3 linked regions of the Homo sapiens genome follow. The protein of the gene in region 3 interacts with the protein of the main gene of each other region in a biochemical or structural test. Each region holds a gene or a part of one and is shown on either strand. Other genes may lie near its edges.

Region 1 (3,754 bases), on a different chromosome or scaffold from region 3:
CTTTGGTAAAGTATTCTTAAGATCTGGGGACTAAGCATTCTTAAAAAAAAAAAAAAAGTACAGCTTCCCTTCTGAATATTGTTCTGCTCAAAGACAACCGTCAAGAATCCTCGCTCGAGCATTTTCAATAATAACTTCAGTAATATTCACAAAAGCAAGGATTTCTTCTGCTGCCCGGGAGAGTGCTGGCTTTGAGAGAGTTGAGAAAGGACTTACAGAATCTTGGCGTTTTTTTTTTTTTTAGGACAAGGTCTTGTTCTATTTTCCAGGCTATGGGTGCAGTGGCATAATCACAGCTCACTGCAGCCTCATCCTGGGCTCAAGCAATCCTCCCACCTCAGTCTCTTGAGTAGCTGGGACTACAGACATGCACCACCATGCCATTTTTACAAAAAGTAAAGTTTTTGTTTGTTTGTTTGTTTACTTTTTGTAGCGATGGGGTCTCACTATGTTGCCCAGGCTGGAAGAATCTGGTTTGAAAGGAAGACAATTTTTTTGTGGCTGCAATCCAGTTCAGTGCAACACGTATACTAGCTAGACTAGACTAAGGGTTGTCATCTGATTGAACACCAAGACTGACCTGGTAATCCTGACATAGAGGTGCAGCCAAAGACCCTCTCTCTATTTCCTATGGGCACTTCCAGCAAAGAGAAGGGCATGGGGCTGAGTGGCTCAGGCAGTGCAGCTTCCCCCGGTAGTGGTGAGGGGCCAAGGAGGCAGCTTTTACACCCATTTACCTTCCTGCTTGCATCCAACCTTGTGCCCATCACAATCAACTGTGAACTAAACTGTTGTGCATGCTTTCTTTCTTTCTTTCCTTCTTTTTCTTTCCTTCCTTCCTTTTTCTTTCTCCTTCCTTCCTTCCTTCCTTCCTTCCTTCCTTCCTTCCTTCTCTCTCTCCCTCCCTCCCTTCCTTCTTTTTTTCTTTTTTTTTTTCAAAAGAGATGAGGTCTGACTCTATTGCTCAGGCTGGTCTCGAACCCCCAGGCTCAAGCAAACCACCCCCACCTCCTTGGCCTTTCGAACGGTTGGGATTACAGGTGTGAGAACACCACGCCCATCCCTAAACGGTTGCTCTTTTAATAATTCAGGTAATTTAAAGTAAGTCCTCCCACCAAAGAGTGAGGATCGCTGGAGTACCACTAAGGCTTGCTCCTCACTGCCTTGTGTCATGCTTCCTCGTTGGTGCTCACAAGAACCTGCCACATAGCAGATGCCCAGTGGACACTGGCTAATTGAATCACCCAGTCAGCCTAATGATGTGAATGTTAAATACATTACTTGGAAGCCCGCGAACGCATTTTTCAGAATCTCATTTAGAGTCAGGAAAGAAAGGCTTTTCTGGGTCGTTTTTTGCTTCACAGATGAGTTAAACATGAGTGCTGTTTTACATCTTTAAATAAGATACATTTATGCTCACTACTTGAGGTTTATTATAGAATTCCTAGGCTCAAAGAGAGGCCTTTAGAGTCCTCATAAATATTAATGACCATAGTTAAGACTGTCATTGAGCCAAAACTCAGTGATATTAGTTATATCACTAATATATTTTAATAATGTATGTAATATTATAATTTTTTAAAGTTATGTAGCAGTTAGACCTTAGGGTTAGACTTAGAAAGAACTGGGTTCAAGTCCAGGGTCTGTCACTGAGTGACTCTGGACACTTTATTTTAATCTCTGCAAACTTATTTCCTTGATTGTAAAATAAGAATAACAATAGCAACAACTGGGTTGTTGTAAGGATTAAATAACATACTGCTTTTTAAGTGCTAAACTTATTATAAAGTTAACTCTAATTCTATAATTATTATTAAAGCTGAACTGTGGGCCAGACACGGGGGCTCAAACCTGTAGTCCCAGCACTTTGGGAGGCTGAGGTGGGAGGATCACTTGAGGCCAACAGTTCATGACCAGCCTGGCCAACATAGTGAAACCTGCATCTCTACTGAAAAAAAAAAAAAATTAGCTGGATGTGGTGGCACATGCCTGTAATCTCAACTACTCAGGAGACTAAGAAGCGCTTGAACCCAGGAGGTGGAGATTACAGTGAGCTGAGATCATGCGCCACTGTCCTACAGCCTGGGCGATGGAGCAAGACTCTGTCTCAAAAACAAAAACAAAAACACACAAAATAAAGCCGAACTGTGGATATGATCTATTTTGGGGGGCTTTTTTTTTTTTTGAAGCAACATCTCGTTCTGTCATCCAGGCTGGAATGCCCATGGCTCACTGCAGCCTTGAACTCCTGGGCTCAAGCAATCCTCCTACCTCAGCCTCCCAACTAGCTGAGACTACAGGCGTGTACCACCACACTGAGCTAATTTTTTTTTTTTTTGAGATGGAGTTTCACTCTTGTTGCCCAGGCTGGAGTGCAATGGCACGATCTCGGCTCACCTCAACCTCTGCCTCCTGAGTTCAGATGATTCTCCTCCCTCAGCCTCCCGAGTAGCTGGGATTACAGGTGCCCGCCACCACGCCTGGTTAATTTTGTATTTTTAGTAGAGACGGGGTTTCTCCATGTTGGTCAGGCTTGTCTCAAACTCCCGACCTCAGGTGATCCGCCCATCTCAGCCTCCCAAAGTGCTGGGATGACAGGTTTGAGCCACCGTGCCCAGCCTAAACCAGTTTTTTTTTATAGAGATGGGGTCTTGCTATGATGCCTAAGCTTGTCTCAAAGTCCTGGGCTCAATTGATCCTCCCACCCCAGCCTCCCAAAGCACTGGGATTACAGGCATTAGCCACCACACCTGGCCAATGTGATCTATTTTGACATGACATTGTGTACAAATGTTCTATATTATATATATCAACATGTATATTATATTACAAATACTATTATGTATTATAAATAACATAGCAAAAAATACAATAAAAAATCAAGTGCTAAACTTAGTACTTGACACAGAGCAAGTGCTCATTAAATGTGTTCCAAGGAAAATAATGATTTAATGCAGTGGGTTTCTTCCCCTTCTTTGTCCTTCGTTCCCACAATAATTCTAGAACATTTTTTCCTTTTTATTCTTAATAAAATAGTAACCCTTTTCATGTGAACATAATTACCTCTGTTCCTCGGAGGTCCTTAGGAAAATAGACATCTTCGGTCATTTGAACACTTAGGCCAAAATCCACCAAAACAGCTTTTGTGGACATGAAAACAATGTTGCTAGCTAAAATGAGAGGAAATATTTTTAAGATAAAATTTTTTATATACCCATAAGTCAAATGAAAACATTATCTAAAACAATAATGAATCTCCAATCAGAAAAGACTGAAATGCTTCCTCTAGTGAGATGGTTGTATTATATTCAAAAGAGGAGAATGAAATTCAGAGTTGAGGTGAAAATCACTTTGGATCCATCAAGAATACAGCCAATGTGGGTATGAATGATTGTAGCCATTAATAATGTTCAAGAACTTGAATTTCAAACTCTAAGACATAAGCATACTGTTGTCAAGCCACTTTTCTAAAACAGAAAAGTAAAATACCCATCTTTTTTCCCAGTGAAAGTTGTGCCACTCTAATTTAGTACTGGCTATTAAAGGTTTACCTATTTCCTCATCATATCAGACTCCTAGAAAACAGTTAGTAAAGGTGTGTTTAATGGATTATTGTTACATTGGTATAAAAAATGAAAAAGGTATTTGTTTCTCAAAAATACTTGTCTCTGTGTTTGTATGTTTTTAAGTAAATTGCTTTTTTTTTTTTTTTTTGAGACGGAGTTTTGCTCTTGTCACCCAGGCTGGGAGAGCA
Region 2 (3,754 bases), on a different chromosome or scaffold from region 3:
GCCCTGACTGCTATTTCTGAGCTGCATTATTAATGTTGCCAGAATATGATGGGGTCTGGCTATTTCCTGTAATATGCATCAGAATGGGTTTAATTTCAGTCAGAATTGGCTAAATTACTAGTCACAGGCAAGAGATGTTAGGTTCATTATGTAGCTATGGAAGCAGAAGTACACTCATTGGTAGGATTTTTTTTCTTCATGTCATTTGAAATGCATACATTAGGATTGGAGTTTTTTGCTTTAGGCTTGGTTATATTAAAACTTTCTCTTGCTGTTTGGAGTCCAGGAAGCCCTGAATTACCTTCTTCATTTTAGTTATGCTAGAAGCTGGGGCACATATTAGTTGTCTTGATTAAGCTCTGAAAGGGGTTTGCTGAGGAGACAGGATCTTTTTTTTTCTAACATTATATATGAGAGAGAGTTCTGAAAAGACCTGTTATAAAATCAGTTTCAGGCACTTTTCCCTTGTATGCTGTTGTGTGTTTGAAGGTCAGTTTTAAAGCATTGGTGTAATAGTCTCATGGTTTATCTTTTTAAAAAGCATTGCCTCAAGAGAGCTGTGGATAAATATATTTAATTAGTAAAGCTAAAAAGTTTTGTTGTCTTAAGTTATTTCTTTGGTAGCAAATAAATCTTCACAAGAACCTAATTTTTTTTTTCTGTTGATTTTCTATTTTGGCAGGAACTTGATCTCAAAATAGCAATTAAGTCTTGTCGCCTAGAGCTAAGTACCAAAAACAGAGAACGATGGTGCCATGAAATCCAGATTATGAAGAAGTAAGTGTATTCCTTGACTTACATTTCCCTGGTTCTACAGCCCAACCAGATGTCATCATGGGGAAAGAGGCCAGGAATCCACTCTTCTCAGGATCTTTTTGGGAACATATATTTTTTTCTCTCATTAAATATATTCTATTTCAAATAATAATATCACATTAAGATTAAGAAGGTTTAGTTAAAATCAGCTAGGACACTTACACACTGTTGGTGGGAATGTAAAATTGTGCAACTGTTACGGAAAACAGTACGGTGATTCCTAAAAAATTAAAAATAGAATTACCATATGATCCAGCAATTCCATTTCTGGGTATATACAAAAATGAATTGAAAGCAGGGACTTAAAGAGTAATTTGTACACTCATATTCATAACATTATTATTCACAATAGCTGAAAGGTAAAAGCAACCCAGTATCTACCAGCAGAGACATGTATAAACAAAATGTGGTATATTCATGAAACGGAATATCATGCAGCCTTAAAAAGGAATGAAACTCTGACACATGCCACAGCATGGATGAATCTTGTGGACATTATGCTAAATGAAATAAGCCAGTCACAAAAAGACAAATACTGTGTCATTCCACTTATGTGTGGTACCTAGAGTAGTCAAACTCACAGTGAAAGAAAGTAGAATGGTGTTTGCCAGAGGGTGAAGGGACCAGCAAATAGAGAATAATTTTTAATAGGTGCGGAGTTTCAGCTTTGCAGAATTAAACAGTTTTGTGCAGTATAGTGATAGTAGCAAAACATTGTGAAAGTATTTGATGCCAGGCTGGGCATGTTGGCTCACACTGTAATTCCAACACTTTGAGAGGCTGAGGTGGGTGGATTGCTTGAGCTCAGGAGTTCGAGACCAGCCTGGGCAACATGGCAAAACCCCATCTCTACAAAAAATATAAAAACTAGCTATGTGTGGTGGTGCATGCCCGTAGTCCCAGTTACTTGGGAGGCTGAGGTGGGAAGATTGCTTGAGCCCAGGAGGTCAAGGCTACAGTGAGCTGAGATCATACCACTGTACTCCAGCCTGGGTGACAAGAGCAAGACCCTGTCTGAAAAAAAAGGAAAGCATCTTGATGCCACTAAACTGTACACTTAAAAATGGTTAAGGTGGTAAATTTTATGCTATGTGTGTTTTACCACAATCAAAAAACTATTTCATTTCAGTTAACAAAAGTCAGCTAGGGCCGGGCGTGGTGGCTCACACCTATAATCCCAGCACTTTGGGAGGCCAAGGCGGATGGATTACCTGAGGTCAGGAGTTTGAGACCAGCCCGGTCAACATGGCAAAACCCCATCTCTACTAAAAATACAAAAATTAGCCAGGTGTGGTGGCGGGTGCCTGTAATCCCAGCTACTTGGGAGGCCGAGGGAGGAGAATTGCTTGAACCCGGGAGGCGGAGGTTGCGGTAAGCTGAGATCATACCACTGCACTCCAGCCTGGGCGACTCCGTCTCTAAATAAATAAATAAATAATAAAAAATAAATTACCCCAACATTTAGTGGCTTAAAATAGCAAACATTTAGTATCTTATAGTTTCTGTGACTTAGGAATTTGGGAGTGGCTTAGCTGGGTGATTCTAGCTTAGAGTCTTTCCTGAGACATCTCAGGATATTGGTCGGAGCTGCAGTAATCCAAAGGCTTGACTGGGGCTGGAGTATCTGCTTCCATGCTCACTTATATGAATGTTGGCCAAAAGCATCAGTTCTTCGCCATGTGGGCCTCTTCATGGGGAAGCTTGAATGTTTTCATGACATGGAAGCTAGCTTTCCCCAGAAAGATCTTTTCCTCAGAAAGAGTGAGTGATCTGAGAGAGAGAGAGAGAGAGAGAGAGTGAACGAGCGAGCAAGATGAAAACCGACGTATCTTTTATGATCTTTACTTGGAAGTGAGACTCCATCCTTTTCCACCACATTCTGTTTGTTACAGTGAGTCACTAAGTACAGCCTACATTCAAGGGGAGGAGAGTTAAGCTCTTAAAAAGAGAAGTAGACATATTTTAAAACTTCCACAGGTAGTGTGCTAAGTACTTTACAGATCATTCTTCCAGTTATCACAGCAATCTTATATTTAGGTATTATTTTGCAAATGAGGAAGTTGAAGCTTATAGAATCACATAGCTGGTGGTTGGTAAAGTGTGGATTTGAAATAAATACTTTCTGACTCTAATATCTGTGCTTAATTCCATTTTGATTCTCAAACTTGGTTATGTGGCAGAATCACCAGGAAAGCTTAATAGTATAAATTATCAGGTCCTACATGTACATGGAAATTCTGTTTGCTTCTTTTTCTTTTTTTCTTTTTTTTTTTAAAAGAGATGTGGTCTTGCTATGTTACCCAGGCTTGACTTGAACTCCTGGGCTCAAGCAGTCCTCCCACCTCAGCCTCTGGAGTAGCTGGGACTATAGGCATGCGCCACCACACCCGGCTAATTTTTAATTTTTTGTAGAGATGAGGTCTCACTGTGTTACCCATGCTGATCTCGAACTCCTGGCCTCAAGCAATCCTCCCACCTCAGCCTCCCAAATTGTTGGGATTACAGTTACAACTACACCCAGCCTAGAACGCCAGATTTGACTTACTCACTGTGTGATCTTGTTACTTAGCCAATTTGTGCTTCAATTTTCTCCTGTGTGGTGAAAGTATTAATAAATCTACCTATAATAGGATTATTGTGACAAGTAACTGAGTTAATATATTTAAAATGTTTACTGCTTGGCACTTAGAAATGTAATAGTAGTAATAGTGATGGTATTTTTATGTGTGTTTTCTTTTAAAAAATTACTAATTTTTAATTATACAAATCAGAAATTAGAATATTATAAATAATACTGATCTTTCCCCCTCTGTTCATCCACCCACAATTAAGTAGCATTTCAAATCCAGTCCCTTTTTATTGGAAATAATTTTTTTTATTGTAATGTTTTTCTTTCTTATTAGGTTGAACCATGCCAATGTTGTAAAGGCCTGTGATG
Region 3 (3,754 bases):
CTTTATATTGAATTCTCAGAATCCCATGAAAGGAAAAGCAAGTAACAGTTTCTCTGATATATAAATGAAGAAACTCAGATGAAAAACCAAGTCCTAATCTTAATGTCGTGGAAAAGGTCAGTTAAGTCCGAGTGTGGTGGCTCACACCTGTAATCCCAGCACTTTGGGAGGCCAGGGTGGGTGGATCACCTGAGACTGGCAGTTCGAGACTCACCTGGCCAACATGACGAAACCCCATCTCTACTAAAAATACAAAACTTAGCTGGGCGTGGTGGCATGCATCTGTAATCCCAGCTACTCAGAAGGCTAAGGAAGGAGAATAACTTGAGCCCTGGAGGCTGAGGTTGCAGTGAGCTGAGACTGCGCCATTGCACTCCAGCCTGGGCAACAGAGCAAGACTCCATCTCAAAAAAAAAAAAAAAAAAAAAAAGCGTCAGTTAAGAGATAGCTCATCCCTCCACACTTTGGTCCTGTAAATTGTTCATCTTAATTTCTCCATGGATTACATTTATTGCCTCATAGATCAGGCCAGAACTGGGAGAATAAAATCAAGAAACAGCATGAAGATCCTTCTTTGTTTCCCATTAAGTACTCCTCTATTATTGATATTGACCCATCTGATGTTCTCCCAGCAAGATAAAAACAAGTTCCTCCCTCAAAAATGGCATCATTAGACATCAAGCTAAACACTCATAAAAATCATCTAAGCCTCTGAGAAGTAACTCTAGCTCTAGTCTTTGAGTTACTTTGATGTTTTGTTTATTTGTTTGTTGTTTTTGTTTTTGCTGGATGCTAAAGAGCAGACTACATTTCCCAAAATATTTCAATAATTATACATCCTAGTAGGTTTGTTTATTTAAAGATCAGAACCCTGGCATTGCTGTACCCAGCAATGAAACTGGCCATGCTGTCACTAGACATCAAGCATCTTTGCTCTTTTGAGTGTCCAAGAAAAGGGGCTGAGAAATACACATTGTCATGCATAAATTTGAACAGTTAGGACCCTAATCCTGAGGGTGCACCCTAGTGGCTGTAATCATGCTGTCCATCAGCCCTAAGATTAAAGATGCACTATTCAGTTGAGAAATATCCTGTAGAGTTAAATGTGAAAGAGTATTTGAAGTCTTTTTTTCTTCAATAGTATCTTTGGCTATTTCAGGTGTCATAAGACACTTTAACAATCAAAGTAAATTACAATTTTAAAATAATTTCTCTGGATATTCCAGTAGAAATGTTTTATGATTTAAAAATTATCCAGGAGATTGCCTCAAGCTGCTACATTGCTTTGCCTTTGGGAATCTGACCTTTGCAGGCAGTTGGAAGTTGACAAGATCTGGGTTTACCTAATGCTGTGTAATCTAACTTCGCAGGAGCAGATCCCCTGGTGGAGAACTTTGAGCCTCTCTATGACCTGGATGACTCTTGGGAAAATGCAGGAGAGGATGAAGGAGTTGTGCCTGGAACCACGCCTCTAGATATGGCCACCAGCTGGCAGGTGAGTGCCGCTCCATCTGTCTGATGGCTGCCCCTGAGGGAGTCAGAGGTTCAGGAATGTAAGAACAGATGGTCTTCCTGGTGCTTTATTCCCCAAAGAACATGCCTTTTATTTTTAAGAAAGTCTGTTTGTCAGAGACCATTTTTATCTTGAAAAACCCTATCCATGAAAGATCTAGGTCAGCTGAGTTCTGAGTACGAAAGTGTATGCCTAATCAGATCAGAGTTGAGATGTGAGAAAAGGTTAGAAGAAAAACACAAAATTCACATAAAAGTTACCCATTCCAAATTCACACCATAATTGTGACCATCTCAATTTCTGAAGCTAGGATAAATGTTACTGTTTGCTTAGGACTTAGGTAAGTGATTTCAGGATGTAAAAATAAACTAAGAATTCTTCTTAGAATTTCAATAAATATAAACAGAGTAAATAGATTTAAAGCCTTCCTCAAAACTCCACAGGGCTGAGATCTGAAGGTATAAAGCAGTTACTAGGTCATTTGGCCCCAGGAAGAAAAGCCAGAGGGAGGAGGTGGGCAGCATGCAAGATCTCCAACATGACAAGATCAGTTCTTCTAGAGACGAGAGCTGCTCCACTTCTAAAACTGCTCATGTGCCTCCCACAGCCTGTATGTGTCCAGCTCACTGACGTTAGCATGGTTCTCCCTTTATGTTAGCACCTCATTTCCCCAGAAGGCCTTGCCACAGAACACAAAAAGATGATGCACTCAGTGACCCCACGCTCTCCTTACCCAGGTCAGCCAGCAACAGAGTGACTGCAGAGAACACCACAAATGCCTCGGCAGCTACAGAATAATTTTTCTTTTAGCCTAAGACAATTCTGGACCCTCAGTTAAAATGTCAGTATTGCCAGAGGGTTAACACCAAGCCTTGTGAACATCTAGACATCTCAATTTGAGCAAGTTTATACAATTCATTCTCATAAGCTTGTTCCTATGGAAGAAGGGAGACAGCTTCACAGCTCTGAGTAAGCTCTTCACTAGCCTTAGGTCTCTGAGCAGGAGATGATTGACATGGTGGCCTGGACTGCCTGTTCCTTCCAAAAGGCTATAGCTCTGACTCTCTGCAGTTTGGTTGGGTATTCTGACCCAGCTCAGAGTTTGTGCAAAGCACTATTTCCCAGTACCAGAGCCCCTACAGCTGTTCTTCCCCCAAAGGGTACCATATTCTTGGAGGGTGGTCCTGATTCCTCTTGCCATTCCTCCATCATTAGGGTACCAGGCCCTCCTAAGGAGGACATGCTGAGTTGTTTATTATAAAGAAACAGACTGCCCTAGTGGTCCCTTCGATGTATAACGATTTCTGGTGTTTTTCTTTCCAACAGGTATTTGACATATTAAATGGGAAACCATATGAGCCAGAGTTTACATCTGATGATTTACTAGCACAAGGTGGGTTGTGATAAAACCAGATTCTCTTAACCATTATTATCTCCACACTGTCATTTAAAGGGAGGAACCAGCATTATCCAGGGTCTACTGTTAAAAGTTCTTATTTCAGAACCAAAAGATGCTGGAGGTAGATAAGGAGAATATCCAGTTTTAATCTACTGTAAATGTATACTGCCTTCTACTCAGCTGGGCTTTGACCTTCAAGTAGAGTAGCTTGGTTGGTTCCACTGGGAGTTGGACAGCAAGCCAGGCAGCAATGATCAGTCCCTCCAGAGTGTCTATGGCATGTTAGAACAAGTGTGTTCCTTCTTCATTTCCTTCAGGAGACATGAAACAGCTGGCTGAAGATGTGAAGCTGCAGCTGTATAAGTTACTAGAAATTCCTGATCCAGACAAAAACTGGGCTACTCTGGCGCAGAAATTAGGTCTGGGGATACTTAATAATGCCTTCCGGCTGAGTCCTGCTCCTTCCAAAACACTTATGGACAACTATGAGGTAACACCTTACCTTACAGATTTAGCAATTTTCATTTGACTTTACTCTGTTAACATCTCTGGCCAGGGCATAATCTCCTTCCCTTTTCCTTAACTCTGAAGAAGAAAACCAGTCATTGCCCAAGGCCTGGGAGGGTGACCCAGGCCAAGTTGGCAGCCCATCTTCCTGAGAATGCTGTTTTCAGATACCTTCAGATTTTCCCCGTTTTCAAATACCTGGAGACTTCCTGTGAAAATGCTACGTAGAGGGTCAGGATTTTCACAGAACTTTAACGGCCCTGAGCAAACAATCGACTGTAATCAACGTGTAGCTTCCTGTCCCCAAGAACACACCTTACCCCATGGCAGGGCAT

Evidence for each region.
Region 1: the proteins of NFKB1 (region 3) and MAP3K8 form a complex in vitro, tested with the Homo sapiens proteins (2 studies listed by BioGRID and IntAct, with this or other methods).
Region 2: of the proteins of NFKB1 (region 3) and CHUK, one has a biochemical effect on the other in vitro, tested with the Homo sapiens proteins (3 studies listed by BioGRID and IntAct).

What each region holds. Positions count from the first base shown.
Region 1 is NC_000010.11:30,451,054-30,454,807, reverse strand, and holds part of MAP3K8 (mitogen-activated protein kinase kinase kinase 8), read right to left. Parts: intron 3,171-3,754; coding exon 3,064-3,170; intron 1-3,063.
Region 2 is NC_000010.11:100,222,946-100,226,699, reverse strand, and holds part of CHUK (inhibitor of nuclear factor kappa-B kinase subunit alpha), read left to right. Parts: intron 1-682; coding exon 683-777; intron 778-3,719; coding exon 3,720-3,754.
Region 3 is NC_000004.12:102,609,205-102,612,958, forward strand, and holds part of NFKB1 (nuclear factor NF-kappa-B p105 subunit), read left to right. Parts: intron 1-1,370; coding exon 1,371-1,495; intron 1,496-2,839; coding exon 2,840-2,906; intron 2,907-3,229; coding exon 3,230-3,402; intron 3,403-3,754.